Homo sapiens: one gene and its partner. The protein of the gene in region 1 interacts with the protein of each later gene in a biochemical or structural test. Each region holds a gene or a part of one and is shown in the gene's direction. Other genes may lie near its edges. The genes, in order: SCEL and LRRK1.

Region 1 (13,331 bases):
ATATTAAGTAAATAAGTGGAAAATAAAATACAAATCAACAGTAAAAAGTTAAAAACGTCAAAAATTTAAAAAGAGCAAATTACCTCATAGTATTTTCAATGACCTCAAAGCTTCTCTCTCTCTTTCTTTCTTTCTCTCTCTCACTCACAAACACACACACACTCCCAAATTATTGACGCCAACTATTTTTTAATAACTTTTAGTTGAGAGAGGAATGAGGTATTGGTGGGGGATATTGTAAAATTAAAGAAATAACAAAGTATACCAATTCCAAAGTATTTAAAAATCCCTGTTTTCTAGGGATACCATTAAAATTATCACAAATTTTGTTCCAATAGAGGATAGTCCACTAATTTACAATAAAGCTTGAAAATTAAAAAGTTCTAGAATTCTCCTCTTTTCTCTGGAGGGTTTATTGTTGATTATATAAAGTAAAGGAACTGGAGACAATTTGAAGATGAGGTGGAAGGGGGTGGATGGAATAAGTGAACTGGAGGAGGAAGTGAGTGGGGGAGGTGAGGGCTTTTCAGATATTGCAGATATTGTGAGTGGGGAGGGAACAAGGACACACTTTTGGGACACCCCAGTGGTTTGAGAGATTCAGTCCATCAGAATGTGCAAGAAGTAAAGGAAAATACCAACAGAAACACTAGCATAAACGAGGGAGACCATGTGAGCCACATTTTCCTAGCGTAGTCTATTCAATGTTGAGATGCTGAGAAGGAGAAGCGGGCAAAGAAAGAGCCTGGCCATTTCATTTTCTTGTCAGATGGCTTCTGTCCCATTTCCTCATGTGTCACATGGTAATGCAGGTATATTCATCCTAGAAACAATCGCTGAGAACTGGCTAAGTCAGGACTACCGAAGACTCAAGGATAAATAAGCTCAGGGCTCAGTCTTCAAGGTGTTTACATTATGATAGGGGAGACAGACACAGAGCTGTCAACGTGTGTGTGTGTGTGTGTGTAGGTCTGCTATATATGTATTATATATGTATGAATCTCATATGTATTAGAGATCCATAAGTATAAATATATTGTGTACATATATGTGGAGGTATGTACATATACGTGCATAGGTAGTATATACAGCTTAGGTAGTATGCTTCCCCCAGATGTAGCTGGGCACAGGTCTCACATAATCATTGCAACCAATACTCAAGCATCCTGTGATCATTTGAAAACATGCCTGTTAAATGAATACTGTTCATGTCACTCATGAATGGAAGGTAGAAAATGACTATAAAAATTCATGTGTTTCTAGCATTTGTTTACATGGCTTTTAAATACAAAATTTTAGAAGCAATCTAAATATGTCACCTACTTTAACTTAATAAAAGTCATAATAGTATAGAATTCTCTTGTATCTATCTACTAAATCAAATTATTGCATGCATTTTGAACTTCATTTACTTAATGAAATATTTAGGTTTTTTTAATTGTAAAAATAGAGGAAGTTATAGGAAACTTGGAAACATTGTAAAAATATGATAGGTGTGGTAGATTGGATTATGGTCCCCCAAAGATGTTCATATCCTAATGTCCGGGCTCTGTGAATATGTTATCTTACATGTTAAAAGGGACTTTGCAGATGTGATTAAATTAATACATTGACATGAGAGAATTATCCTGGGGTATTCAGGTGGGCCCAATATAATCACAAGTGTCCTTATAAGAGGGAGATGAGAGGATCAGAGTCATTGACAGGAGATGTGGTGGCAGAGCAAGAGGTTGAAATGACACCACGAAGAGATCATGGACCAGGAATGCAGCTGACCTCTAGAAGCTGGGAAAGTCAAGGAAACAGATTCTCTCCTTAGAGCCTCCAGAAGGAAATAACCCTGCCGACATTTTGACTTTAGCCCAGTGACACTAATTTTAGACTTTTGACCTCCAGGACTATCAGATAATAAATTATGTTGCTATAAACCACTAAGTTTGTGGCAATTTGTTACATGAGCAATAGAAAACTAATATGACCATGGATTATTAGGGGAGAGATAAAATAGATTTCAAGAAAGAAAACTCTGCTGTGATGGATATGGGAACACTGAGGAAAGAGAAGAAAGATTGGGTCTAAGAAGAGAAAAATGCCATGCCAATCAAACAGAAGAGAATGTAAGAAGCAACAAGTTATCATCCAAGAGAAATGAATTATGCAGTACTAAAGTAAACACTGCACTCCACAGGGACACCTCTCATTCTGTTCCTTTTTTCTTGGAAGTTCCTGCATGATGAACCTTTTAGAAAACCATCAATAAGTCCCAGGGACTGACTCTTGAGAGGATCTTCATATACCTTCTAAAACCTACATTTAGTCATAGAAAACTAATGATATTTATCAACAACATTGTGTATTAAAGAGCTTGACCACTGGGCACAGTAAGTGTGCCTGAGAAGAGGAGAACTACTAATTGTGCTTATGGTTTTGTTCTTAGATATACCTCATGTATGAATAAATAAAATGTATTAACAGTTTACTAAGAGTTAACTTTTAGATAGCACCTTAGCAAAATTGCAGGCCCTGTTCTAAGTGCTTTTTCTGTGTTAACACAGTTGATCCTCGCAATGACCCTATGGGAAAGGTACTGTTTTATTATTCTCGTTTTACAGGTGAGAAAACTGAGAAAAGAGGAGTTAAATGACTTGCCAAAAGGTTACTCAAGTAGTCATTGGCAGAGACCATCTGGCACCTGAATTTGTACTCTTAAGCAATAGTTAAACTGCCTTTGCTATTAAGTTCTTCTAGAATGGCATATGGTATGCTGGGTACAACTAGATTATCATATAATGCAGTTGGGTATTACAATAAAATAATATACAGAGTTCCCTTGGAGCAGGGAGAAAGGGGGAAGCTAGCTGTGATTGGCGTCTGAAATGGTAGGAAAAGCTCCATAGATCAGGTTTTGTGTTTGCAGGGACTGAGAAAGTGAGTAAGAGATCACTAAAGTGCACAAGAAATGGACATTTCAAGTCACAGGAATGGCATTAATACAGATATTAAAAGCCTAAAATATTATAATATGTTTGGGCAACAGCAAGGATTTTGATGTGGTTAAAGCTTAGGGCACATAGTGGGAAGTGGTGGGAGATGAGGCTGGAATAGTTGAAAGTGACTTAACAAGACATCTTAGACCAACTTTCTGCATTTCCTATTTTCTCCATCCAATACGGTATTTGAAATGTGGCCAGTGTAACTGTAGAGCTGAATTGTAAATTTATTTAATTTTAATTAGTATAAAAATTTTAAATAGCCACATGTAGAACAGTAGCTGCTACATTAGACAGCAGAGTTGTGTATGAATCTAAAATGTTTGAATTTCATGCAACACGGGGAACTTATGATGGGTTGGAAAATGGGGAGCGACATGATTATATCTGTCTTTTGGAAAAATAGCATTAGGGAATGGACTGTCTTTACTGGAGAGAAATTTACAACTGTATGCAAGGCCATGCTTGTAGTTCACTTTTAGCAGTTCCAAGGCTCAGGGGAACCATGCATTAAACCATCAGTGCTGTTGCTTTAGTCACAGCTAACTGAGATGGTGTAGGTGTCTGTCCTTTTATGGCTAGCCAGAGACCCAAGAGATGGCCCCGTGCAAGACCTCTTCCCACAGAAACTCAGTATGGGATGGTGGCTAACTGACTCAGCAGATCTCTCTCAGGGGATTTAAACTGAAACATATAGAGACTATGATAAACTGGTAGCATGGCAGAAAGAAGCAGGTAGAGAATCAAGGTTAGAGAGCTGAGTCATGAGCATGCGAGACTCAGAGCTGTCCTTGGGTCCCCAGATTTGTGCCAACTAGTGTTGGTTTTGCAAAGTAATGAGCAGCTTGTATATTTAAGATCTAAGAAAGGCTGCTGAGACAATATTCTGTCTTCCTAACCACCCCTAAATCTTTATACTAAACCCTCTGGGATGTGAAGGTTAATTCTAGCAGGCCTGAAGCTAGCCTGAGTTGTTCTGCTGAAATGTGAAATGAGCCTGCACAGCCCTGATCTGAAACATACTGATTGGTCGCATGGCTTTGTAACCAAGCACCCCAAGAGTTTCAGGTTGATTTTTACCAGCTAATCATTATTGTTTATTGATAACAGTGAGACTGACGATTTGTGTCTGCTGAAACCCCAGGAGGCAGGGTCACGTAGCAGGATATGTCTATGGGATCAGCAGGGAATAAGATACTGCAGCTGAAACTCCATTTGGGTGTTTCATTCACAAGTCAGTGGTTCTTGGCCTGAGGGAGAAAGTGGATCCTGAGAAGAACCTTGTGGAGAAAGGACAGTTGGAACTTGCCCTTGGCTCCGGCTTTTTGCTATGAGACAGCCCCTAGCTGTGATGCTTATCTCTACTTTAATGCAGTTGTTACATTTTATCTTTTTCTTGTGATAAACTGTAGACTTCGAAGTATCATCATTTTGGATTCTTTGGGTCTGCTCTGCTTAACTGTGCTGCCGTTAGCTGAGGTTTCCAGATCTTATCACTGATCCGTACAACCTGAAAGAGCCTAACTGACTGAGCAGGGGTTAGAGTTGAACTGGAAAGAGACCAGTTAACAGGTGATGAAAACAGTGTTTTCTCAGGATGATGAGGGCCTGAATTAGGCAGTGGTGGGAATCAAGTGGAAGGGAGACTGAATTAGGAGGTAGAATTGATAGTAATAGTTGAGTGATGAACTAAATTGGATGTAGTTTAAAGCAGTGGGGAGAAGGTGAGGCAGGAGGCAATGGTGATGGGGGTTCCAACCTTGGGCAATAAGTTTAGCTATGATAATTATTATTTGAGCAATCTCTGTAAAATGCAGAGAAATCTTCCCTTGTTTTAAGAAAGCAGTGAGAGGGCCAGGCAGGGTGGCTGACCCCTGTAATCCCAGCACTTTGGGAGGCCAAGGCAGGCGGATCACCTGAGGTCAGGGGTACAAGACAAGCCTGTCCAACATGGTGAAATGCCGTCTGTACTAAAAATACAAAAACATTAGCTGGGTGTGGTGGCAGATGCCTGTAATCCCAGCTACTCGGGAGGCTGAAGCAGGAGAATCACTTGAACCCGGAGGCGGAGGTTGCAGTGAGCCCAGATCGTGCCACAGCACTCCAGCCTGGGCAACAAGAGCAAGACTCTGTCTCAAAGAAAAAAAAAAAATCAGTGAGTGTTCCGGGTGAATTGAAGAGAATACTTTAGTCTTTCAAGAAAATCAGATTTATAAACCAGATAAACCAGACTTTAGGTAAGCAATAAATACCCCTTATGCATGCACACTTGTTTATGATTATTATTCCTTCATTTAATCAACAAACATTAAATGTTACTATATGGATCATATATGTATATGTCTGAGTAAATATCTATACGAGTCAAGAATTGTGCTATGTGTTAGTATAAAAACAAATGTGAAGGCCTGGTCTCTGATCTCAAGGGGCTTATGATGTAATACCATTAAGTATTTGGTGATGAAGAGACATGAATAAAGAGAATTAACTAAATTGAGGAAAATTATGAAATAATCTGAGTTTAAAAGTAAGATTTTAATTACAAAAATTGGCCATTCTTATTTTTTCAATGGGAGAAAAAAAATTCTTACTTCTAATCCCCATGGAATGGTTTATTTCAGACTGCAGCCAGGAGAATTACACTATATTTGCAGTGTGGCTCATGATTGTCTCCAGAAAATGTGGACCCATAACACCCTGAGGAGCTGGGGTTGCTGGGGCTGCCAAGTTGCTATTTTGGTAGAGGAAATGAGGCAGGAAAGTTGCAGAATTGTTCACTATTAAGGGGAAATGTGGAAGACATTAAGAAGATGACAGAGTGGATGAATGGTTCTTCTTCTTCTTGACCATCTAATCATTGTCCTCTCAGACTTTAAAACTCTGCATCAAAATCACCTCCCAGGTTCTTCCTTCTCTCCAGTATGTGATGTCTGGCATTGAAAATTTCTGTGTATGACTTTATCATGGTGTGTTATAGCTATTTAATTCAATGTCTGTCCCTCCAAACAAATTGTAAATTCTTGGTGAGCAAGACTGGGTCTCATTAATTTTCCTTTCCCTTGGGATAGAAGCAATACTAAGAGAATTATGGGTACTTAATGCTTGTTAAATGAAGAAATGATTGAAAGAAGACAAATGAGAATAAGAAGGATAAGTTGGTAAATCCATTACGGAGGGCAGTTTGGCAAGATTTGCTCTACCAAAGTTAAAATGTGCAAACACATGGGCCCAGCAATTACATTTTTAAGAATTTATCCTACAGATTCACACATGTGCCAGCTGATTTATGTACAGTGTTATTGATGGCAGCATTGTTAGCAGAAGTTTGAAAATAATGGAAATGCCCATCAACAGTGGATTGATGACATAGATTATGGACTATCCATGTCATGGAATACCAAGCAACTGTGAAGAATCAATATAGCAAGATCTTCAGAATATAATCTTAAAGGAAATAAGCAATATTCAGAACAGTATAATATATCCATATCTTACATTTGCTTGTATATGCATAAATGTCTCTGGAAAGACCCAGAAGAAACTAATAACTGCTTTTTTTGTTGGAGAGAAAGGTTTGGAGGAAAAGGAAGACTTTTCATTTATTCCATTTTATACTTTTTAGTTTCCAAACAATGTTATATATTACTGGGTTCAAAATATAGCATAAATATACAAAAAAGAAAACTGCACACGCATGTTTATACCAGCTTTATTTATAATTGCCGAAACTTGGCAGCAACAAAGATGTCCTTCAGTAGGTGAAGTGAATAAATAAATAAACTGTGGTACATCCAGACAAAGGGATATTATTATTACTGTTATTTTATTTTATTTTTTTTTTAAGTCAGGATCTTAGTGTGTTGCCCAGGCTGGTCTTGAACTTCTGGCCTCAAGCAATCCTACCACCTCAGCTTCCCAAAGTGCTGGGATTATGGGTGTGACCTACCATGCCTGGCCTTGGAATATTATTTAACACTCAAAAGAAATGAACTATTAAGCCATGGAGAAAACTTAAATGGAAAGACATGACGAAAACTTCAATGCATATTACTATGTAAAAGAAGCCAGTCTGGAAAATGCTACATACTACATGATTCCAACAATACGACATTCTGCGAAAGGCAAAACTATGGAGACAGTAAAAAGAACAGCGGTTAACAGGGGCTGCAGGGAGGGAGGTATGACTAGGCAGCACACAAAGGATTTTTTAGGGCAGCAAAACTACTCTGTGTGGTACTATAATGGTGGATACATGTCATTAGGCATTTCTCCAAACTCAAAGAATATACAAAACCAAGAATGAACCCTGATGTAAACTATGGACTTCGGGTGTTAGTGATGCATCCATGCAGGTTCATTAATTGTAACAAATGTCCCACTGTGATGTGGGATGTTGGTAATGGGGACACTGAGGGTATACATGAACTCTTTGTTGTTTATTCTGAATTTTGCTGTGAACCTAAACTCAAAAAAACGGTGCTCATTTTGGCTGGTTGTTTCTTTGGATATAACACATAGACAAAGCAATGTGATGTTGCAACATCTAATTTTATGAGACAGGGTCAGAAAACATTCCCCCATTCAAGACCTGTGGTGGATATTGCTAATTAACCATGGACATTCCCTTGTTGAGTCCCTACTTGCTTACAAACCTCAACATATTCCTCCAGGAAGCCATCACCAATCAATTGGCATTTGTACCTGAGATAAAACCCATTTGGCATTTCAGCTTCTGAGCTTACAGTTCTAGAGAGATCTTAAGAACTCCAACACTGAAAGTGAATAGGTGTGGTGAAGCCAAGTTATTCCAAGCATGCCCAAGTCTTCCCAGTTAAACACCTGAGTGAAACTAATGCTCAGGCTATTTGGCTACCTCCACACCCGAAAACGTTCTTGATTCAACCTCTTCACATTTGAGATTTTAAATTTTAGGCAGTCATGTCTGCTCAGCATGAAGAGGTCTGAATTTTGCTCAATGGTTTAGAATTAGTCCCTTTTTATACTAGAGATTTGATTCTAAATGAAAAAACACTGGTTTGGCTTAGCAGTGTGGATGGTCTGATGTATAAAGTAAGAGAAACCCTTAATTGCATGCAGAAATAATTGCTTGGAAGCTCAAAATCCATAACTTGAGTAGCTGCACTTTACTTCATTATAAGATAAAAACTTATCTTTCTGGTTCTGTGTTTCATGAAGTAATATATTTCAACATTCTGTAATGTAAATTACAACTTATCCCTACAAGGGAGCTCTTAAACTGTTTTCTTTCTTTTTGGCTAAGTTCTAAGGCTGAAGATTGCTTCTAGTTTATCTTTTGAGTTAAGTCACGTCTTTGTTTTTCAGCTTTATCATTTGTAATATTAATATTCAAACCAAGATTTTTGGGCATCACAGAAACTTAAAGCATATTTTAAAAATATTTTGCATGTATAAAATTCCATAAAAAAGCTGAGTAGACACGTATATATGTTTTACTTTGAAAGAACATTTTCCATTTTAGATTTTCAAATTCCTCAGCCCAGAATAAGGGAACATCAGGGAACATACAGGAAGTGGTCTCCCAGTCACAATGACCACATACTGCAATTGCCTTGCTCTTCAGTCTGGGTTTCTGCTTCTTGTTACAGTCATTTCAGTGGGCGTCACTCAGCTGCATTGTAGTTTTCAGGAGCAGTTGTTCAGGGGGGATTTGGTTCATTGCTGGTGTGACATATGAATGACGATCACCCAGGAAGTTCTGATGACGTGGCTTCTCTCAACAATGTTTGCTAAGCTTCTTTAAAGCCTCTTTGGCTCTTAGGGAAGGTGTGTTTCAAAACCTGTAACAGGAGTCCCCGCCTAGAATGGCTCTTCAGTGTTACTCCTTCCTCCCAGCGGAAGCAGCCTTTGTTTTTTGTTGGGTTTTTTTTGTTTTTTTTGTCTGTTTGTTTTGTTTTTTGAGATAGGGTCTCACTCTGTCACCCATACTGGAATGCGGTGGTGTGATCACAGCTCACTGTGGCTTGGTCCTCCCATGCTCAAGAGACTCTCTTTGCCTCAGCCTCCTGAGTAACTGGGACCAAAGACATGCACTACCACACCCAGCTGATTTTTTTATTTTTAGTAGAGATGAGATCTTCTCTTACTGTGTTGCCCAGTTTGTCTCGAACTTCTTGGCTCAAGTGATCCTCCCACCTTGGCCTCCCAAAGTGCAAGTGAAAGCCACTGCAACTGGCCAGAAGCAGCCTTTGATGTTGGGTCTACTGCTGCCCTCAGCATTGAAAGAAGTTTCAACCATCCTTTTCACATTTTTTTTTTTTTTCTGAGACAGTCTCACTCTGTTGCCTAGGCTAGAGTGCAGTGGTGTGATCTTGGCTCACTGTAACCTCCACTTCCCTGGTTCAAGTGATTCTCCTGCCTCCTCCTGCCAGAGTGGATGAATGGTTCTTCTTCTTCTTGACCATCTAATCATTGTCCACTCAGACTTTAAAACTCTGCATCAACATCACCTTCCAGGTTCTTCCTTCTCTCCACTATGCGATGCCTGGCATTGAAAATTTCTGTATATGACTTTATCATGGTGTGTTATAGTTATTTAATATAGCTGGGGTTACAGGTGTGTGCCATCACGCCCAGCTAATTTTTATATTTTTAGTAGAGATCAGGTTTTACCATGTTGGCCAGGCTGATCTTGAACTGCTGACCTCAGGTGATCCGCCTGCTTCCACCGCCCAAAGTCCTGGGATTACAGATGTGAGCCACCACGCCTGGCCCCTTTTCACATTTTTTTATACATGGATAAATAAGATAGAGATTAGAATTCTTACATGCTAGGTGTATTTTCCCTCTGATAGTTTTACAAAATAGTCTAGGTGTAGAATGTGTGGAACAGACTTCTTTTGTGTTTTCTAATCCTAGGGTTCCTGGGTTTCTGAGAATTTGTTTGTCTTGAAGATTCCTTTAAGCCATATACTCCTTGCATGCTTGTCTGTGCCCCTGCCTTCCAGGTACTATGGGTGTATGGGGGTTCCTTCTATCTTGAGTTTTCAATTTTATTTTTTGAAAGAGAATACAAAATAGGTTGGGTCCTATGCCACCTTGTCAGTGATATGGTTGTGCATACTGTTGATATCAGTTAAAAGGGTGATCACAGGAGCATATATATATATATGTTTTTTTTTTTTTTGCATAAGGCCATAAGTTAAACAAAGAATTCAAACAAAGACAGTAGGTATATGAGTGAGAATGCTTTAATTGAACTGGTATTTGTACAAGGTGACACCCTGTTGCATACCACACACCTCCTCCCTGAGTGACTCAGCCGCTGAGCAAGAAACCTCTGAACTGTTCACTAATACAGTCAGGTAGAGGTTGAGACTCCACTGAATAAACTCTAGGTTCCCATTTCTTTCAGCCAGATCCTCCCAGGGAATCACTACAGGCTGGTTAGCCAAAAAGTCCTGATTTTCTGCTCAATAGAGGTAAGTTGAATTATACTTGCAAACAGAAATACATCTGCTGTATGTGCACAGCTTTCTCTGTGTTCCTTACAAATGATTAAAATTAGAACTTACTGTATTATCTTTGTCTTTTCTTCCTGTAAATTTTGACAGCCTCCAGCTGGCTGTTAGCTCTGCTCTTCCTTGCTGTACTTTTAGGTCACATTGCATTGAACTTCTTGGCAATTTTACACGTTATGGGCATCACAGAAACGAGCACCTATTTGATTTTCTGGGTGGGAGCTGTCAGCTGGTGAATCCTGCCACACAAAGGATAATAAATTCTTTAAGTGAAGGGACCAGCACCTGCTGGTTTATTTTCTCAAGCGACTATACAAACATTTTTTAAAGGATCTTTCTGTTTTCATAAATGATGCTTTTAGTGAAATAGTGAACTCAAATATTGCTTTATAGTTAATAAGTCATATTTATTTTTTTCTCTACTGCTAAAAATATTGCAAGTTGCTGAGCTATGAGAGAGAGAGAGGTTTATATTTATGAGGTTTTTGTCTCCACCCTATCTTCCCCAAATAAGAAAATCACCATTTCTCACTTGAAAGTACCAAGGAGTAAAGGCAGGGTGTGGGAGCAGAATAAGGGTACATGGTTCCTCACAGGGATCTGTGGGCATCTGGCCAACTTCTCTATGGTATATTCTGCATTCTAACCTAAGGAGTGATTAATGTATATGGGGGCAATTTTCAAACTTTATTCATAGCCTAGTCCTGAAAAACCAGTTTTGGGAGACTTTTGATAAGGCTAGAAGAGTTCTTTTAACAGAGCTTTCTTTTATAATTAATAGCTAAGCTGACTTGTGTTTTTTCTCATCATTTCTATTTATGATACAGAGCTGTGGGATTCAAATGCAGGGGCCACTCACAGCTTGCAAATTGCAGCTCTGTGTCCTCCAGAGAGGTGCCCCCACAGCATACCTGGCTCTATCTGTAGTACTTGAGTTCTCATGGCTTCCTATTGCTGACAAGGTCACCTGCAGTCTGAGAGGGGGTTAGACACACCAGTGCTCATTTCCCAAAGGTTTACAGAAGAATTTTACAACTTGGCTTTCAAGTGTTTATAGTAACCAGAAAACTAAAGTGTAGCAAGTGTGGATAATTTTATTTTTCATAAAATGTGATTACATTTAAAACTGTCTTTCACTTCCATAGTTTATAACGTAGATAAAGCCTTCCTAATATATGTGGTGCTCCAGTGTTTAAAGTATTGGAAACATCAATTTGAGAAAACTGAGAAATGACAACAGTAAAAATTTTAGTAAAACATTCAGATGATCCTAAATGTCGGGATATGCATAGAATGCCAACAACAGGCCAGAATTTTTATTGGAATGTTAGCGTCGTATAAATCTTAGATCTAATTGACAGAATATTTCAACTGAAACGGAGCATAGGCCCATCTAGTCTAATGCCTGAATTTTCTAGTTGAGAAAATCAAAGCATAAATGTTAAGCAACTTGTGAAGATCAGAGTAGCAGAACCAGAGCACGATGCCAGATTGCTTGTCTTTTGTCTTACTGAATTTTCTCAATATTTTTTCAAATGCTTTTTATCATAAAATATGTAGTAGCAATAAATGAGCCACACTCCATCACAGACTGTGGTTACCCAGCACATGTGGAAATATTATAGTGTGTATGGTATGACTAAGACATAATAGAATACGTTTTCCAACTTGTGGCTTATGGAATCAGTGTTGCCGTTTATTATATTTATGAGATTTTCATCTCAGGAGCCAGTAGCCCCTCAGCAGGGAGGGGATCTGATGTATGTGTGTTAGCTGTGGTCTGTACAATCAGAACACCCTTGCCTCGAATGCCATTCTGTAGGTGATGCTTACCTGACTGCCTTCTCAGACTACCAGAATTATGATGAAATACCTGAGAGGTTCATATTCCTGGGGACTATGTAAACAAAACAAATTTTGAATGACTGAGCTCATACTGTGGAATGAACTGAACACAATTCACGAAGCCGTCAAATTAAGCAAACATTGTTTAACTGAGAGTATCTTATACGGTTCAGGCATCAACTCCCAGCATTTCTTAAGAGTGAGGGGATAAAATCTTTGGCCTTGCAGTCCAAGGGAAATCTTTATTGGTTCCATATGGCTTCGCTTTCTGTCATTGTCCTGCTTCTAGACCATTTGTTGATCATTTTCCATTTTCTTTGGCTGGGTACTTTGAAATAAAGATTTTAGGTATTAATTGCTGCATACATAGCTGGAGTTGTTCAAAGCTCACTTCTGAATCAAAAGTCTTTTTTTTTTTTTTTTTTTTAAATGGAGTCTCGCTCTTTTCCCCAGTCTGGAGTGCGATGGCACAATCTCGGGTTACTGCAGCCTCCGCCTCCCATGTTCCAGCGATTCTCCTGCCTCAGCTTCCTGAGTAGCTGGGAGTACACGTGTGCACCACCACACCCGACTAATTTTTCTATTTTTAGTATAGACGGGGTTTCACCATGTTGGCCAGGCTGGTCTTGAACTCCTGACCTCAAGTGATGTACCCGCCTTGGTCTCCCAAAGTGCTGGGATTACAGGCATAGCCAATGCGCCCGGCCTTAATCAAAAGTCTTTATCAGTTATATTCCTTAAGTGTTTCCAGCTTACCATTGTACAAATGGTAAACTGTGATTTTTTTCCATGAACTTGTGATTTTGAAGCTCGGGAGAAGCTCTTCCTCACATGGATGCTTTGCCAAATGACAGCTACACGTACTAGACTTTCATTTCATGTCGATTACTAAATTTTTTAAGGACATGAGTCATCCTTTTATTGTGATACTTAATTGGAACAGTGAATTTTATAGCTACCTATTCAATGACAACTGGTTTACTTCTAGATACAAGAA
Region 2 (16,372 bases), on another chromosome or scaffold:
GTAAGGTAACAATCACAGTTCTAGGGTTTAGGACCTGGATATTTTGGGGCTCATTATTCAGCATATGACACCCTCCAATTTTGTTCTTCTGTTTCAAGATTATTTTGGATTATTCTAGATCCTTTGCATTTTCATCTAAATTTTAGAATCAGCTTGTCTGATTCTTAAAAAACCGTTGTGATTTTTATGGAGATTACATTGAATCTATAGATCAAAGAAAGCTGACATCTTAGAAATATTGAATCTTCCAATATGAACATGGTATATCTCTCATTTATTTTGGTTTTTAAAAAGTTTCTCTCCACGGTGGTTTGTTTTCAGTATTCAGATTTTCTGCATCTTTTGTTAAATTTGTGTCTACATAATTTATGTTCTCCGATATGGGTAAATGACATATCTTCTAATTTGATTTCCATTTCTTGTTGCTGGTATACAGAAATATAATTTATTTTTAAATATTTACCTTATATCAAAAAACCTTGCTAAATTCACCTATTAGCTCCAGTAGATTTTTCAGGATTTTCTAAGTATGCTTCTTTTTTGAAAAAAAGACAGTTTTACTTTTTTCATTCTAATCTTCACATATTTTTTTGCTCTGTTTGCCTGATTGCATTGGCTCGGATCTCTAGCGAAGGTTTAAATAGAAGGGATGAGAGAAGGCGTCATTCTGTGTGATCTCAGGGGGGAAGCATTCAGTCTTTCACCATCAAGTGTGATGTTTTCTGCAGAGCTTTGTTATCCATGGAAACTTTATCAGATTGAGGAAGTTCCCTTTTATTCCCAGTTTGCTAAAAGCTTTTATCATAAATGGGTACTGAATTTTGTCCCCCAAAAATGCTTGTTCTGCCTCTGTTAATTTTTTTCTTCAGTTATTTTTCTGTTAAATATGTTGATGGATTTTCAAATGTTAAACCAACTTTGTATTCCCAAGATTCATACCAAGTGTTCATGATTTATTATCTTTTTTATCTAATGCTAGATTTCAGTGGCTCCTATTTTGCATAAGAATTTTTTAATCTATGTTCATGAGGGATATTGGTTGGTACTTTGATGAAAAGTCTTTATGGGTTATCAGACATAGGCTGTCTTCATAAAATGAATTGAAAAGATTTTTTTCCTTCTCTATTTTCTTCAAGATTTTGTATAAGATTGGTGTTAGACCTTCCTTAACAGTTTGATAGAATTTATAGCCTGGAGTTTACTTCACAAGAGGATTTTTAATTACAAATTCAATCTATTTATTAGCTATAGGGTTATTAAAATTTTCTATTCTTGTGTCAGTTTTGGTAAGTTATTTTTTTTTCAATAAATTTTTTCATTTCATCTATGGTGCAGAATATATTAATATAAAGATATTTAAAATATCTCTGGAATGTGTAGTGATATGCTCTCTCTCCTGATATTAATAATATGTCTTTTCTCTCATTCTTTCTTGATCAGTCTTGCTAAGTGTTTATCAAATTTTTGGAACCGTTTTAAAGAACGAACCGTTGCCATTGCTGATTTCTTCTATTATTTTTCTCTTTTATTTCATCTATTACTGCTCTTTATTATTGTCTTCCTTCAGCTAACTTTGGGTTTAATTTGTGCTTCTTGTTCTTCCTTCTTAAGGTAGAAGCTTAGGTCATTTATTTTAAGCCTTTCCTATTTTCTATGTAAGCATTTAAAGCCATAACTTTCTAAGCACTGCTTTATATGACAAATACAACTAATTTTGCTATGTTGTGTTTTTATCATTTAGTTCGAAAGATTTTCTAATATATCTTATATTATTTTGGTCAGAGAATATATTCTAAGATTTCTGTATTTTGAAATTCACTGAGACTTATTTTATGGGCCAATGTGTGATCTTTCCCAGTGAAAGTCTGGAGTGCACACAAGAAACGAGTTTTCTGTGTTGTGGCTGTAGTATCTTATAAACCTTAATTAGCTCAGAGTGGTAAACAACGTGTTCAAATCTTCCGTATTCTCACTGATTTTTTTCCTACTCATTCTATCAATTACTAAGAGAGAGATGGTAAAATATCTAATGATAAGTCTACCTCTCTCTCCAGTTCTGACAGGCTTTATTTTATATATTTTGAAGCCATTATTGGTTACATATACACATTGGTGTCATGCCTGTGTAATGAAGTGACCCTTTTTTCATTATACAATGTTTCTCTTTATCACTGGTAATACTCCTTTTCTTGAAGTCTATTTTGTCTGATGTTAAAATAGCCACACCAGCTCTTTTAGTTCTACCTGGGTTTTTTCCCTATTCTTCTAGTAGCAGGTTATGATCTCTATAAAAAAGGAATCTCTTGCTGACAGCACATTATCCAATCTGATAATCTCTGCCTTTTAATAGGAATATTTGATTCATTCACATTTATCATAATTAATTATATGGTTGGGTTTAAGCCTACTATTTCTCTATTTATTTTGTATTTATACCATCTGATTTTGTTATTTTGTTCATTCTTTCCTGCCTTCTTTTGAGTTAAATTTTATTTTAGTATTTTCATGCTCTCTGTTGGGTTTTTGGCCATTCTTCCTGGTACTGTGTTTTAGTGGTTACTCTTGGGATTAGAATATGCATCCTTACCTTATCACAATCTACTTGTAATTAATATTATACCACCTTGAATTAAATGCAAAAACCTTAGCACGATACCAGGACATTACTCCTCCCAGCACCCTCTGTACTCTTGCTGTCATCCACGTTTCTTCTATACAGTAGTCCCCCTTATCCACAGCTGGTGGATTTCCAGACCCCCGTGGATGCCTAAAACTGCGATAGTATTGAGCCCTACATATACTATGCCTTTTCCTTTATCTACATACCTATGATGAAGTTTAATTGTAAACCAGTAAGTGATTAACAACACATAGAAATTAACAACAATAACAACAAAACAGTATAATTATGATATACTGTCACAGAAGTTACATAAATGTGGTCTCTCTCTCTCTCTTTCTAAATATCTTGATATTTTTGGACCAGTAATTGAAACCATGAAAAAGAAACTGCAGATAAGGGAGGACTACAATATATGTAATGAACCCCATAATATAGTGTTATTACTTTTGCTTTGAATAATTAAACAATCAATAGTCTTTTAAGAAATTAAGGGAAAAATGTTGATTGTTTCTGGTGCTCTTCACTTCTTTCCATCTGGTATAATCTCTTTTCATCCTGAAGAATTACGTGTAGCATGTCTTAAAGTCTAAGTCTGATGGAAACAAATTCTCTTTTTTAGACAAGACTTTTGTTTATATGAAAATGTCTTTATTAACACTCTAATTTTTTGCTGGATAATTTTCTTCGATGTAGAATTCTGGGTCATTTTTCTGTCAGTCTTTTTAAAGGTGTCACCCCATTGTCTTCTGGGCAGACAGGGGTCCTCCTCAGTCTTCGTCACCCCTGACCCCTCGCTGAGGACCTCTGACCCCATGCCACCTCCTCTCATGTGATCAAGGATGCCCAGCCACCTGCTCTGCTGCAGCCCAGGGGCCTCTGAGAAGCCTACTGCCCCTCCGAGAGCTCTGCCACCATCCTCCTGTGGCTTTTACTGCCCTTACACTCCCCTACTTGTTACCTCTTACCCACCTGCCCGGACCCTCAGTTATGCTGTCAGCCCTTGAGCATTGGGCAGCACACTTCTCTGCCTCCCCACAGCATGTGCTCTGGCCCTGGCATTTGGCCCATGGAAGGCAGGGGAGAGGGAGTGAGGCCCCCTATCCTTACAAGCAGGGTGCTCTTGTCGGGGGATTTGTGCAGACTCTTTATGAGCTATTACTTAACTTTTCTTCCTTCAAATTCTCACTTTTGAGGCTTGGTTTTCATCAAAACCAAGTGTAGTGTTGGCTTCTTCTTTCCTCCTACTCTCCTCTGTGCTACCCATTGCCAGGATATATCTTCTGAAGTAGCTGAACTGAACGCCTCCCCTCGGGGTGGGACCCCTACGAGGGCCAGGCTGGGGGAGCACACGAGGGGTGAGACCTGCCATGATGCTCTGCCCTAAACCAGCTTGGTCCTCAGGCCTCTGAGTACTAGTTTCCATATCAGCCGCTTCCTGGGTTTGATGCTGATATTGGCAATGAAGCTGTATCCAGGATCCAAATCCACAGGATCCAAATCCACAGAATGTTGCCATGCAGCACCCAGAGAACACGTCGCCACTCTGCGTCCTCAGCTCCAGATCTCTACAGGGGTGTCACCTGGAGACTTCTGGGGAGCAGGCCTGGATCCTGCACAGTGAGGCCAGAGACCCGGCCACCTGGGAACCAGCCACTGGCCCCACCTTTGCCTGAGGCCCCACCCACCTCCCACTAGGTATGGGAGGGGCCTCAAGTCTTTCTTGCTGCTCCAGCTCTCTGGGTTCCTTACAAAATAAAACCCCAAAGAGGAATTCAAAATTCCACAGCCCCTCATAACATGGCCCAGCGGTGTCCTTAACTTTGGTCCATGAGAACGTTCAGAGTAAGGCAGCCTGTGTGTTTACAACATTGCCGGATCTGACAACTTTCAGATTGTTTTATCGCAGGTTAGAGGAGTGAGGAGATACGAGTACTCAGTAAAAGAAAGTCAGTTATCTATATGAAGTCAGTTTTTATATGTATAAAACGTACACGTATTTATAATGTGTGTGTGTGTGTGTGTTGGCCTGAACAAGACCATCAGTGTGATCACGGCCAGGTCCTCACCAAGGCTTATGGCACAGCAGGTTAGAATATGAAGTTGGGACGCACAAGTATGAATCCCAACTACCTTCTTTCTCGTCTGCATAATGGGTATAATATAATTACCATAAGTATGATAGTTGTTGTGAGGATTAAATTAGATAATACATGTAAAATATTCAGACCAGCAGAAAGAAACAGTAGCAGGCATGTCCCAGGGCCTCCTGCATGGGAACAGCCACTGACAAATACATGTAAAATACTCAGAACAGTGTCTCTTAAGCTCCCAAGACATCCAGTATTGACAGTCCAGTTATTGTTACTGTTTCTTCGTGGTAGGTACTCATAGCCATGGTGTCGGGTTCTGTACACATCCAGGAATAGTGGGACACGTTTCATCTCAGCACAGGCATAATGGTTCCCTTGAGCCCCAGGCAAGTCCCCGCTCCTGGCATCATCAGCTTTCTAAGGCTGCTGGGATCCCTGGATCTGTGCAAACAGACACATTTGCGGCTCCTCTCAGAGCATGGTTTCCCACCTGCAGTGAACCCCTCCAGCCCCTCAGAAAATCTCCATGAACTCCCTGGAAGTACCATACAGTTTTAAGCCTTTGTGCTTCTTTCAGGAGGAAGGTCCTTGCCTCTCAGCAGACTCTGAGAAGGGCTGCGGCCCCTGTCTGAGGCTGTCTCAGTGGGGTGGCATGAGCCAGCACCTCCGTGCAGACACTGTGCCCTGCCAGGGTTTCACTGCTTTACGTTCATCAAACACATGAAGAATTTACCTCTTAGGACCTGTCCTGCCGACTCACTGGTCATTCCCTGGGACGGCCTTTCCCAGCTCGTAATTGCTCTGAAACCCGGAGCCAGCGGCCTCCACTACCTGGAGACCACTGCTTCCCTTGAGAACTGGCTTCTGTGGCCACTCAGGATCTCTTTATTTGCCATGTCACCTTCTAAACCTCTGCCCTCAAAAACATCATGGAGCACCTCTTCTGTGTGCCACCGCACATCGTGCTGGGACGCCTGGGGACAGAGAATGCTCCCCCCACTCTCTAAGCACACTCCGACAAGGAGAAGAGCAAGACAGACATGGGGCACCACCACTGTAAGAGGGCCACATGAGAGACCCAGGATGCATGAGATGAAGTAGAAAAAGCAGAAAGAAACAGCAGGCACGGCCCAGGGCCTCCTGTATGGGGAACAAACACTGAGCAGATAGAGAAGCAAGGACTTTTCAGATGTAAAGGAATAAGACAGGACACTCTGATGAAGAGGCATCTAGCGAGAGGTTGGGAATGTCCTTTCACTCAAGACCTGAAAGGCTGAAAAGGCCTCCTGCTTCACCACCTGTGTCTGCTGTGTCATCTGCACAGCCCCCGTCTACCTTCACCAGCCCTGCCAAGAGGGGATCCTTTCTCTCCCCATTGTATACCCATGTGTCAGAGCGTGTAAGTGAGAGCCGAGACTTGCGCCTGTATGCTCGGGCCATGGGCTGTCACTGAATTTTCTTACAGTTTAGGGAGTCTTTTCCAGAAAGTTCTAAGGACATTTATTGGACTGAAATAGATTTAAGATTAGGAGAGCTGAAGGTAAAACCTTTATTGGGAAGGAGTGCAGCATCTGCACACCAGGGGCCGTCCTGTACCTGTCCAGTGCCTGCCCCCGCAGCCCCACAGGATGCAGCCGTTGCTGGTTTTCGGGCACCCTTTTGGAGGGACCTCCCAGGTTTCAGCCGTGAAGCCCTTGCCGATGCAATGATGCAGCATTTTTATGATGACCGAGAGTGTTCTCGTAAAACATCCCTCTTCCGCACAAAACAGGCCTATTCTAACTTTTAAGGCAATCGCGTCGTGTCAACGGGCCAAGAATAATAAATAGCTTTAAAGGCCAAAAATGTTACTCTGACCCTAATATCTGCATTGTCCTTGAAACCTTGCAGCTGTGTTTGTTTTTCCTTCATCAACCAAAGTTAATGTTATTTCCCCAACTGCAACCCCGTTTATAGAGAATTGAGTCCCATTTGCTGTGTCTGACATTTTTAGGACCATGATGTTTTCATGTCTTCCCTTAGCCTTATTCTAGTATCTTAGAAACCATGATAGACTCATATTAATGGGACCAGTCTTCATTTTCCTTTGGAGTATTTATTCTTAGCATATAAACCACGCTTCTCTTACTAATAACAGAATTCCAAAGGCCCTGGGAGGAAGGAACCCAGCAGCCTGAGGTGTTCCAGCACAGCCTGTCCCCAGATCAGGCCATCTGCTGGGGTCAGGGCCCTGCAGTGGAGCTTGGGCCCCACTGTTCACCAGTCCCCCTTGGTGTGTTTCAGCTACCTCCTGCCCCATCTCCTTCCATCTAAACCTGGCCTGGACACCCACGGTATGCGGCACCCCACAGCCAACACCATTCAGAGGGTATTTAAGATGAGCTTCGTTCCCGTTGGCTTCTGGCAAAGGTTTATAGCACGGATGCTGATCAGCCTGGCGGAGATGGACCTGCAGGTATTATGGCTGCGGTTTCTGCATAGACAGATGCCCGAGAGCCACCTACAGTTGTACCACTGGGGGAGGGGAATGCCCTTTGCTGGGGGGCCCTGCCTGGAGACCCTTCTCCTAGAGCCATGCCACCAATGTAGTGCCAGGGGGCAGGTGTGGCATGGGCTGCTGGCCAACCCACTGAAGCCATCCTGGGAGTTCCAAAGCAGCACCCTCCTTAGACAGAACACGCCCTTTATAAACAGTGGTTCTCAGTGTTAGCCCACCTCAAAACCACCTGGAGTTTGTTAGAACACAGTTTGGTGGCCCCACCCGAGGTTCTGATTCAGTAGGTGTGGACTGAGGCCAAGAATTCACATTTCTATCCATTCCCCGAGGTGATGCCGCCGGCCCAGCAACCACACTTGGAGAACCGTGAAGTTAGAAGCACGGTTTTGCCGTCCTGGCTGCACGCTAGACTCGCCTGGAGGAAATTCTAAAAGACACAGACCACACTCCAGACCGATTGAATCAGGGTCTTTGAGTGTGGCATCATTTGAAAAAGTGATTCCTCTTTGGTATTTTTAAGGCTCCCAGGCGAGTCCCCTGTGCAGTCCAGTTTGAGAACCACTTGTGCAGAACTGTACGTTGGTTCTGGTAACACGGGAGACCCCCCGCCCAAGGAGTTAGCTTCTGTGGGTTTACCTGGGGTTACAGGAAGGCGTCCCCGCTGTCAGACAACATTAATTTCATGCAGGGCAGGAACATGGAAGCAACATTTGCTACAGTGGTGTTTTTCAAAGTGGGGTTCCTATACCAGCAAAATCAGCCTCACCTGGGAACGTGTGAGGAACACACGTTCTCAGGCCCCACCTCAAACCCACTGCATGAGAAACTCCAGGGGGAACCCCGCACTGGTTTTCACAACCCTCCAGGGGATTCTGACACACTTTTGGTTTTGCGAACCTCTGGCATAATCCCTGACTGTCAAATCCTTGACATTAAACTCCGTATGAGTTTACTGTTGCTACATCCTAATTAGAAAGCCCTTATTGAATTATAACTTCTTAGCTCTATAAAAATGTTCTTTGATCTTCCCATTTTTACCGAAATGGTAAGAAAAAAATCAATGCAAAAGCCTTAAAGTCCATCGTGACAGTAGCAGCCTGTGCTAGCGGGGAGGGAGATGGGTTAATAGCGCCAGAAGGGTGCACTGATTGAAGGAGTGGGCGCAGGCGCTGGTGCTCCTACGTTCCCATTCCTCTGCCCTCCCTTTGAACTCTGTGTGCCGCTGTCTTCTCAAGGGAGGGTCATGGAGCACTAGCATCGTGGGAGGCTGAGCTGACAAGTGGGGCCCAGCTGGGCCTGGAGGCCAGGGCGCCCTTCCGGGCAGCAGCTTCCCTCACTCGAAGTTAGGAAAGAAGTCCTATTGAAATTCAGATGGGTGACAGGAGGGGGAAAAGAGTGCAGTCTCATCACTCATCAAAGGCATGCAAATTCAAGCAGCAGTGAGATGCCAGTTTTCATCCATCACATTAGCAAAAAGCTGAGCCGTAATCCCCAGCCCGGGGCACGGAGCGGCCCCGCGCACACTGGTAGTCAGCGCACAGGACAGTCTCGTCGTTCGAGAAGCGATTCCTCGGGATACATCCAGAGCTTTAAAACGATCAGACCCTTCGACCAATAATCCGACTGGTAAACATCTAAACTGAGGACATCATTTTCAATCAGAGAAAGCTCTGTGCCTTTCTCATGTAACTCAAGGTGGTTTTGAGGGAGCAAAAGATTGGCACCAACTTACACTTCCAGAAGAGAGTGGTTCAGGAAATTACTATGCTTAATAGAATATTAAACTTTAGAAAAATGAATTTTATGTGTGTTTTTAATGGCATAGGAAAGGTGGGGTTTTTTAACATATACGAAATTAGAAATCCAATATGGCTTCAGCTGTTTTTCACAAACATATGGAGATAGAAAAAAAAAAAATCCTGGAATAATATATACCAAAATCTGAATGATCTCTCTGCTTGGTGTTAAATTGGTGTTTTGTTTTCCCTCTTACATTTTTCTGTATTTTCTACATTTTCTAATATGAATTTTTGCTTGTAAAGTCAGAAAGGGAAAAAAATTTTAAAGGAAAGCCTATTTTTCAATTCTTTGGAAAAACTGTGTTTCCGGAATTCCCTGGAGACCCCGTCAGCTAATGTAACGTTCAATTTGGCAGCAGGGATGAGCAGCGTGGGAGGAGAGGGTGGGAAAGATGGGGGACATTTATCAAGATGGGGCCCAGCCCGGCCTCTGCAGAGCTCTGCCCAGGGCCAGCGAGGAGCCCAGAATACTTAAGCAGGGTCTTTTCTCTGTCTTTCAGCTTTTTGAAAACAAGAAGAATACTAAAAGCAGGAACAGGAAAGTCACCATTTACAGTTTTACAGGAAACCAGAGAAATCGCTGTAGCACATTCAGAGTGAAAAGAAATCAGACCATCTATTGGCAGGAAGGGCTCCTGGTCACTTTTGATGGGGGCTACCTCAGGTAGGAACACCTGGAAGCCCACCTGCCAGGTCAGCAGGTGCCACAGCAGCCACCGCGGGGCCACGTCAGCAGGATGCCTCATCCTCTTGGTGTCCAGAATTTTGCTCGTGAGAGCGGCTCGTCATGGCAGCTTGCTAGAAATGTGAGGCCCTCCCACGAGTGTCCCAGAGGCTCCGGTCTCCTCACCCCTGCTGAGCCCCCCTTGCAGGACGGGAAAGGCAAAGGCAGATGTGGCGGCCACAGCTGAGGACTTGAGGGACGTGGCGGCCATTGAGCTCAGGAGAGCCTCAGGCACTTCCCATGGTTATTCAGGTCACCATGGTGACCTTGCAGCCATCCTGCCCGTCCCCTTGTTCTGTGAGAAGCCAGGCTGGGGACAGGGGATGCTGAGACTCCTCAGCCCCCATCTCCACTGCCCATAACCAGACACGGAACTCAGCTCCCTGTGCCATTTATTCTTGGTTTTTTGAGAGCGGTAGACCTAAAGTCAGCCCAACAGGTTTAACGAATGATAAACACCCAAGATTATTTTAATGTTTACAATGAACTTTGCAAAATATTCTTCAGCTCTGTGAGAGGAGAAGAAGGGAAAAGGGGAGGTAACTTTACAGAGGGCTTGATTGGCACCTGCCTCTTCCGCATAGATGTTCTCACTTAAGGCCCAGGGTTGCTGCTGGACAGATGAGCATACTGAGGTTCAGGGAGGTCTGGGAACTTCCTTAGGGCCTCACCTGAGGGTCAGCTCCCAGGCTGAGCGTCCCTGACTGCAATCTTCCTCGTGCCTCCTTCACCAGGCCAGGTCCGGGGCAAGAACAAGGCAGGGCCACGCACACGTACATACAGGGAGGAGTCCCCCATCGGTCCTGCAGGGCACAGAGTCTCTCCAGGTCCCCGGGGGTTGGTTCCTGTCCCTGGGGGTAGGGATATCATCCCAGGGTCCCCCAGAGCCAGATCGCAATGGGCTCCTTTTGGTCTCTGGATTGCAGTGTGGAATCTTCCGACGTGAACTGGAAAAAGAAGAAAAGCGGAGGAATGAAAATTGTTTGCCAATCAGAAGTGAGGGACTTCTCAGCCATGGCTTTCATCACGGACCACGTCAATTCCTTGATTGATCAGTGGTTTCCCGGTAAGAGGAGATGCTAGAAGCAAGCCCTCATTCATGCTAATATTTCTTATGAATCAGGGTGGGGCTGCTGCTTTCGGGGTGGACAAAAATCCCACTGGGATTCAGCCCAAGAAAACTAGGGGGTCTTAACAGCACTTTGGTGGGAGTCCTGGCCCCCGAGAAGTCCAGCTCTGTCACTGGGGGGAGTCCCACGGGGAGGACTGGGCTCGGACACCACTGGGAATGTGCAGGGAAGCGGCCTGCCAGCTGCCCACAGGCGTGGCAAGAAAGATGACACTGGTACCACGAGTGGTCCACGGAGATGCTCAGTGTGAGCTCACACGTGTCTTGTTTTCATAGTGAGGACTGTGTGGCTGAAATTGCAGGGGAGCCGGCAGATGGAAATTTATCCCCTGCGCAGGGGCAGGGATGGAGGGGAGCCGTGGCAGCCAAGGGGCCTTGCTCTCCTCCCCTGCCACCCCACCCATCCCGGCGGTGATCAAACCACTAACACCGCCCTTCTCAGACCCTTTGGATCTGTTTCTTCATTGATAGTTCACCCAAAAAAAGTACTCTTTGAGTGAAGTTCCTGAGGCCTCCTGTTTGTTTTGCTCCTGGGGTGGAGACGACTCCCAGAGCAGCCTGCCAGGGGGAGGCCATCTGGGGTTTAATGGGGCAAGCAGCTGTGGGAGGGGCTGCCCTGAGAGCTTCAGCCCTGAACGCTGGAGGCCAAGCAGCTGTGGGACAGGCTGCCCGAGAGCCTCAGCCCCTGAACGCTGGAGGCCAAGCAGCTGTGGGAGAGCGGGTTTGGAATTCCAGTGCCACCCCTGCAAGCCTCGGCTGGTCCCCCGGCCTCCTGGGCCGGCCTCACCTGCATGCAATGCCTGCATCCCAGACAGCATCAGGGAAGGTGGCTAAGAGGCAGTGGCAGAATGCACTCAGGATACACATTCCAGATCCCAGGGTCTGGTCTCTGTCAGGGTTGGGGTCCTTCACACTGTTGGCAGGAAGGGTGACCTACAAGGAAAAAAGGCTTAGAAAGGAGCCCTCGGAGAAGTCAGCTGGGTGTGCGTGTCATGGTGATTTGGGAGGCACTTGGCTGTCTAAGGGGGCCCTTAGGCCCATGTGAACCCTTCTGGGCACTTTGCAGCTCCCCACCAGCCAGTGTTCCCCACACAGCAGGTGCTGGGCAGTTTGACAGGTGGGTCCCTTAGACAGTCACCTGAGATGGAAAGGGCTCTGGTGAGCACCTGAGACAGATCGCCTGGAGCCAGCATCCCCAGCCAGGGGCCCCTCCCAACGGGATGCCTTACACATGGACCTGCAGATATCAGATGTGCCTGGAAAGTTCTAGGCATCCACCTCCTACCTTGCATGAAGCAGGCAGTTGGCCGGCCCTGAGGGCACCTCCACAGGGCATCTTGGAGGGTGTTTCTCTGCACCTCCTCTCAGAGGCGTGGGGGAATCCCGTGTCCGGTGACTGAGTTTCGTCTATGATAATTTGCACTCATTTCTGCCCCTGCATTGCCCTTCATGGACATTGTAAACCTGATGTTTCTAATTGTAAGAAGGGTGCCTTCCCCACTGCCGTGATGGTTGGAGGATAGCTCACACCTAGTCTGCGATGACCTGTTAGGGCCCAGTCATGCAGGAGGGATCCCCCCACTCCTCTCAGGCCCCCCAGCCAGCCTGCTCAGTGTCCCGACCACTGGACAGTTCTCGGAAGCATCCTGAACCCTCCCTGGACACATCTTTCAGGACAAACAATTGCGCTCTCCAAAAAGGCACCCGAATGTGGCAGTGGGTTTCAGCCTGTCTCTTGGGTACAGGCCAGGACAGGCAGCTCCCCTGCTGCGAAGGCCTCAGGGCCTGGGGTGCAGAGTGCTGCTCGGGGGGCCCTCCTGCACCACCTTCTTGTGAAGCTGTCTCCTGCTCTGTCCTTATTTAGCCCTGACAGCCACAGAGAGCGACGGGACGCCACTCATGGAGCAGTACGTGCCCTGCCCGGTCTGCGAGACAGCCTGGGCCCAGCACACGGACCCCAGTGAGAAATCAGAGGATGTGCAGTACTTCGACATGGAAGACTGTGTCCTGACGGCCATCGAGCGGGACTTCATCTCCTGCCCCAGACACCCGGACCTCCCCGTGCCGCTGCAGGAGCTGGTCCCTGAACTGTTCATGACCGACTTCCCGGCCAGGTATGCCCCGAAGGCCCCTCCCAGAACACAGTGCAGGTCACAGGGGGCGTTCCTCGCTGTGCAGTTGCCGAGTGATCTCCAGGAAGACCCCTCTGGGGCGGGCAGGTGCCCCGGCCATGGCTTCCCACCAATCTCAGTACCTTTTAGGTTCCCATCCTCGGCTGCCTGAAAGGAACCAGGCTGCCGGCTTTCCATTTTGGAGGCCTTGATAGGCCCAACTGGGAAGAGTGCTTTGCAAGTGCAGCCATCCTGCCTCCCCATACGGCTCCCCCTTCCCCTCGTAGCCAGAGCTGCTCTCTCCTGAGCTGCCTCTCCTTTCCACTCCTACCTCCCCACCAGCTCTAGGGCCAGCAGATAAGTGCAGCCAGTGCTCCTCAAGCATTCAGGAAGGGGAGAGAAGGGAGAGCTCCCACCCAGAGCCTTGTTTACCTTCTTTGTCAAACGCTGACTCCTGTCTGTAGCCCTAGCGCTGAGCTCCCACCCAGAGCCTCGTTTACCTTCTTTGTCAAACGCTGACTCCTGTCTGTAGCCCTAGCGCTGAGCCTTGGACCCCTCAAATCTGTTCTTAGAGTTTATTGTACCTATGCTAACCCAAGATCATAACTAGAGAGAGAATCGGGGAGGAAATAGGAAACGTCACCTTTCAGAAGAAAACTTCCAAAGGGGTCCTTTCTCTACGGCCACCACTTCTGTGGGGTTCACCCTGTGCCAGCCATCACCACCTCTGAGGCCGTTCCTGTCCTGAGAGCCCTCTGTACAGAGGAGACTGAGGCTTAGCAAGCCTGCATAACCTACCCAGGTGTGCTCACCCACAAGTGGCAGGGCCGGGGTGGCCCAGATCTGTCCAGCCTCACAGATGGCTTTGAACCATGACTCTCGGCCGTTGGGGCAAATGACCCAGCCCAGGACCCACCCGCATCAGGGCGGGGGGGATGTGGCTGATGCCGGGCGTGTGTGGCAGGCTCTTCCTGGAGAACAGCAAGCTGGAGCACAGCGAGGACGAGGGCAGCGTCCTGGGCCAGGGCGGCAGTGGCACCGTCATCTACCGGGCCCGGTACCAGGGCCAGCCTGTGGCCGTCAAGCGCTTCCACATCAAAAAATTCAAGAACTTTGCTAACGTACCGGCAGGTAAGCGGGTCCCAGGTTGGTGCTGTTTTTCTCAGACATATGCTGCCCGGGTCTAAGCTCTGTGCGGCCTTAGAGAGGCCTGAGGCTGCAGGCACCCCATGTCCTACTGGCTGACACTGCGCTGTCCCTGGCAGACACCATGCTGAGGCACCTGCGGGCCACCGATGCCATGAAGAACTTCTCCGAGTTCCGGCAGGAGGCCAGCATGCTGCACGCGCTGCAGCACCCCTGCATCGTGGCGCTCATCGGCATCAGCATCCACCCGCTCTGCTTCGCCCTGGAGCTCGCGCCGCTCAGCAGCCTCAACACCGTGCTGTCCGAGAACGCCAGAGGTACCGCGGCGCGCCGCCCCACCCGGCCCCGGAGACCGACAGAGCCCCGGGCGCCTCCTGCCTGGCACGGGGGGTAGAGCCTCAGGTGGCCTTGGCAAGCCCAGGGCACGCCCAACCCATGGCTCGTGTGACCATCCCCTGGCTGCGAGGCCAGGCTCCCCGCCAGGTCCAGTCACTAGGCAGAGCCTTGGCGAGGACGGGGGAGCGCACACTCTGGAGTCGGCTAAGACCAGGCTCTGCCGCGGTCCGGAAAGCCGCTGAGTTTATTTGCCTGTAAAAGGAGGATGGTAACAGGCCTCGCTGGGAGGGCACCGAGCACGGGAGCTGCATTGAATCACTTTCCCAACTGCACACGTACACGGCTGCTGAGACTCTGAGACCGCAGGGTCAGTGGGACCATATTTTAACATAAAATGTCGAAGTAATTTACCTTGAGAAAAGAGCAGCTAAACTCCAGAGTGGCCAGAGGGTGAAAGGTAGCTGTCTTTTGACTAAGGAAGAAGAAATGCTATGAAAATCAATCACTTCTGCCTCAATGGAAGATAATTTTTTAAACAGAATTCTTTACTTTTTTTTAATACAGGATCTCACTTTGTTGGCCAGGCTGGAGGACAGTGGTGCAATCTCAGCTCACTGCAGCTTTGACCTCCTGAACTCAAGCCATCCTCCCACCGCAACTTCCCGAGTAGCTACAAGCACACGCCACCACACCCAGCTAATTTGTTGTTGTTGTTTGTAGAGATGGCCTTTCACCCTGTTGCCCAGGTCGTTCTCGAACTGTGAGCTCAGTCGATCCCCCCACTTTAGCCTCCCAAAGTGCTGGAATCACCGGCATGAGCCACACGCCCAGCCAAACAAAATGCTTCTACTTGCCTCTCACCCCTTTACGTAGGACAGCCTTGACCTGAGGTGAACTCTAGAGATTTCGAACCCTTGCTCATTCAGCAAAATGCCAGCAATTCCAGGAATAAGATATCAGGAATGAAGCTACAGCGATGAGCATTTCTATCCTAAATACTGTTTCACTTAACCAGGCCATTCTCTGTCCTTTATGGCAGTCTGGTGAATAGTGAGAATGTGTCAATGGAATATAAAGTATCTAAGGGCCAGGCGCAGTGGCTCACATGTGTAATCCCAACACTTTGGGAGGCCCAGGCGGGCAGGTCGCTTAAAGCCAGGAATTCAAGACCAGCCTGGCCAACATGGTGAAACCCCATGTCTACTAAAAATACGAAAATTAGCCAGGCATGGTGGCACGCGCCTATAGTCCTAGCTACTCAACTTGGGAGGCTGAGGCAGGAGAACTGCTTGAACCCTGGAGGCAGAGGTTGCAGTGAGCCAAGACCATGCCACTGCACTCCAGCCTGGGTGATAGAGGGAGACTCTGTCTCAATAAAAGAAAAAAGAAAAAAAATCATAAAGTATCTAGGGAGATCGGAAGACAAAAAGACAGTTGTTATCATGATAATTTGATTCTATCAAAACTGAAATTTTGATACATTTGAAAATTGTTTTTCTTTGCAAGATTCTTCCTTTATACCCCTGGGACACATGCTCACCCAAAAAATAGCCTACCAGATCGCCTCGGGCCTGGCCTACCTGCACAAGAAAAACATCATCTTCTGTGACCTGAAGTCGGACAACATTCTGGTGTGGTCCCTTGACGTCAAGGAGCACATCAACATCAAGCTATCTGACTACGGGATTTCGAGGCAGTCATTCCATGAGGGCGCCCTAGGCGTGGAGGGCACTCCTGGCTACCAGGCCCCAGAGATCAGGCCTCGCATTGTATATGATGAGAAGGTACGTGCCTGGATCCCCTGGCCCAGCCCCACAGTGTAGGAGCCCAGCCCTCAGGCTAGCCGGGCAGTCCTGGAGGCACCTGAAGCTTCGGGGCTCAGCATCCCCAAAAGCACATTTTTCTCACTCTCCCTTG

Evidence for each region.
Region 2: the proteins of SCEL (region 1) and LRRK1 form a complex in vitro, tested with the Homo sapiens proteins (2 studies listed by BioGRID and IntAct, with this or other methods).

What each region holds. Positions count from the first base shown.
Region 1 is NC_000013.11:77,525,375-77,538,705, forward strand, and holds the start of SCEL (sciellin), read left to right. Parts: upstream 1-10,331; 5' UTR 10,332-10,450; intron 10,451-13,331. UniProt on the Homo sapiens protein: May function in the assembly or regulation of proteins in the cornified envelope. The LIM domain may be involved in homotypic or heterotypic associations and may function to localize sciellin to the cornified envelope.
Region 2 is NC_000015.10:101,038,985-101,055,356, forward strand, and holds part of LRRK1 (leucine-rich repeat serine/threonine-protein kinase 1), read left to right. Parts: intron 1-3,249; exon of another isoform or gene 3,250-5,154; intron 5,155-6,996; coding exon 6,997-7,168; intron 7,169-9,509; coding exon 9,510-9,673; intron 9,674-10,108; exon of another isoform or gene 10,109-10,659; coding exon 10,660-10,799; intron 10,800-11,649; exon of another isoform or gene 11,650-12,726; coding exon 12,727-12,976; exon of another isoform or gene 12,977-13,405; intron 13,406-13,473; exon of another isoform or gene 13,474-13,937; coding exon 13,938-14,104; intron 14,105-14,238; coding exon 14,239-14,436; intron 14,437-15,961; coding exon 15,962-16,239; intron 16,240-16,372.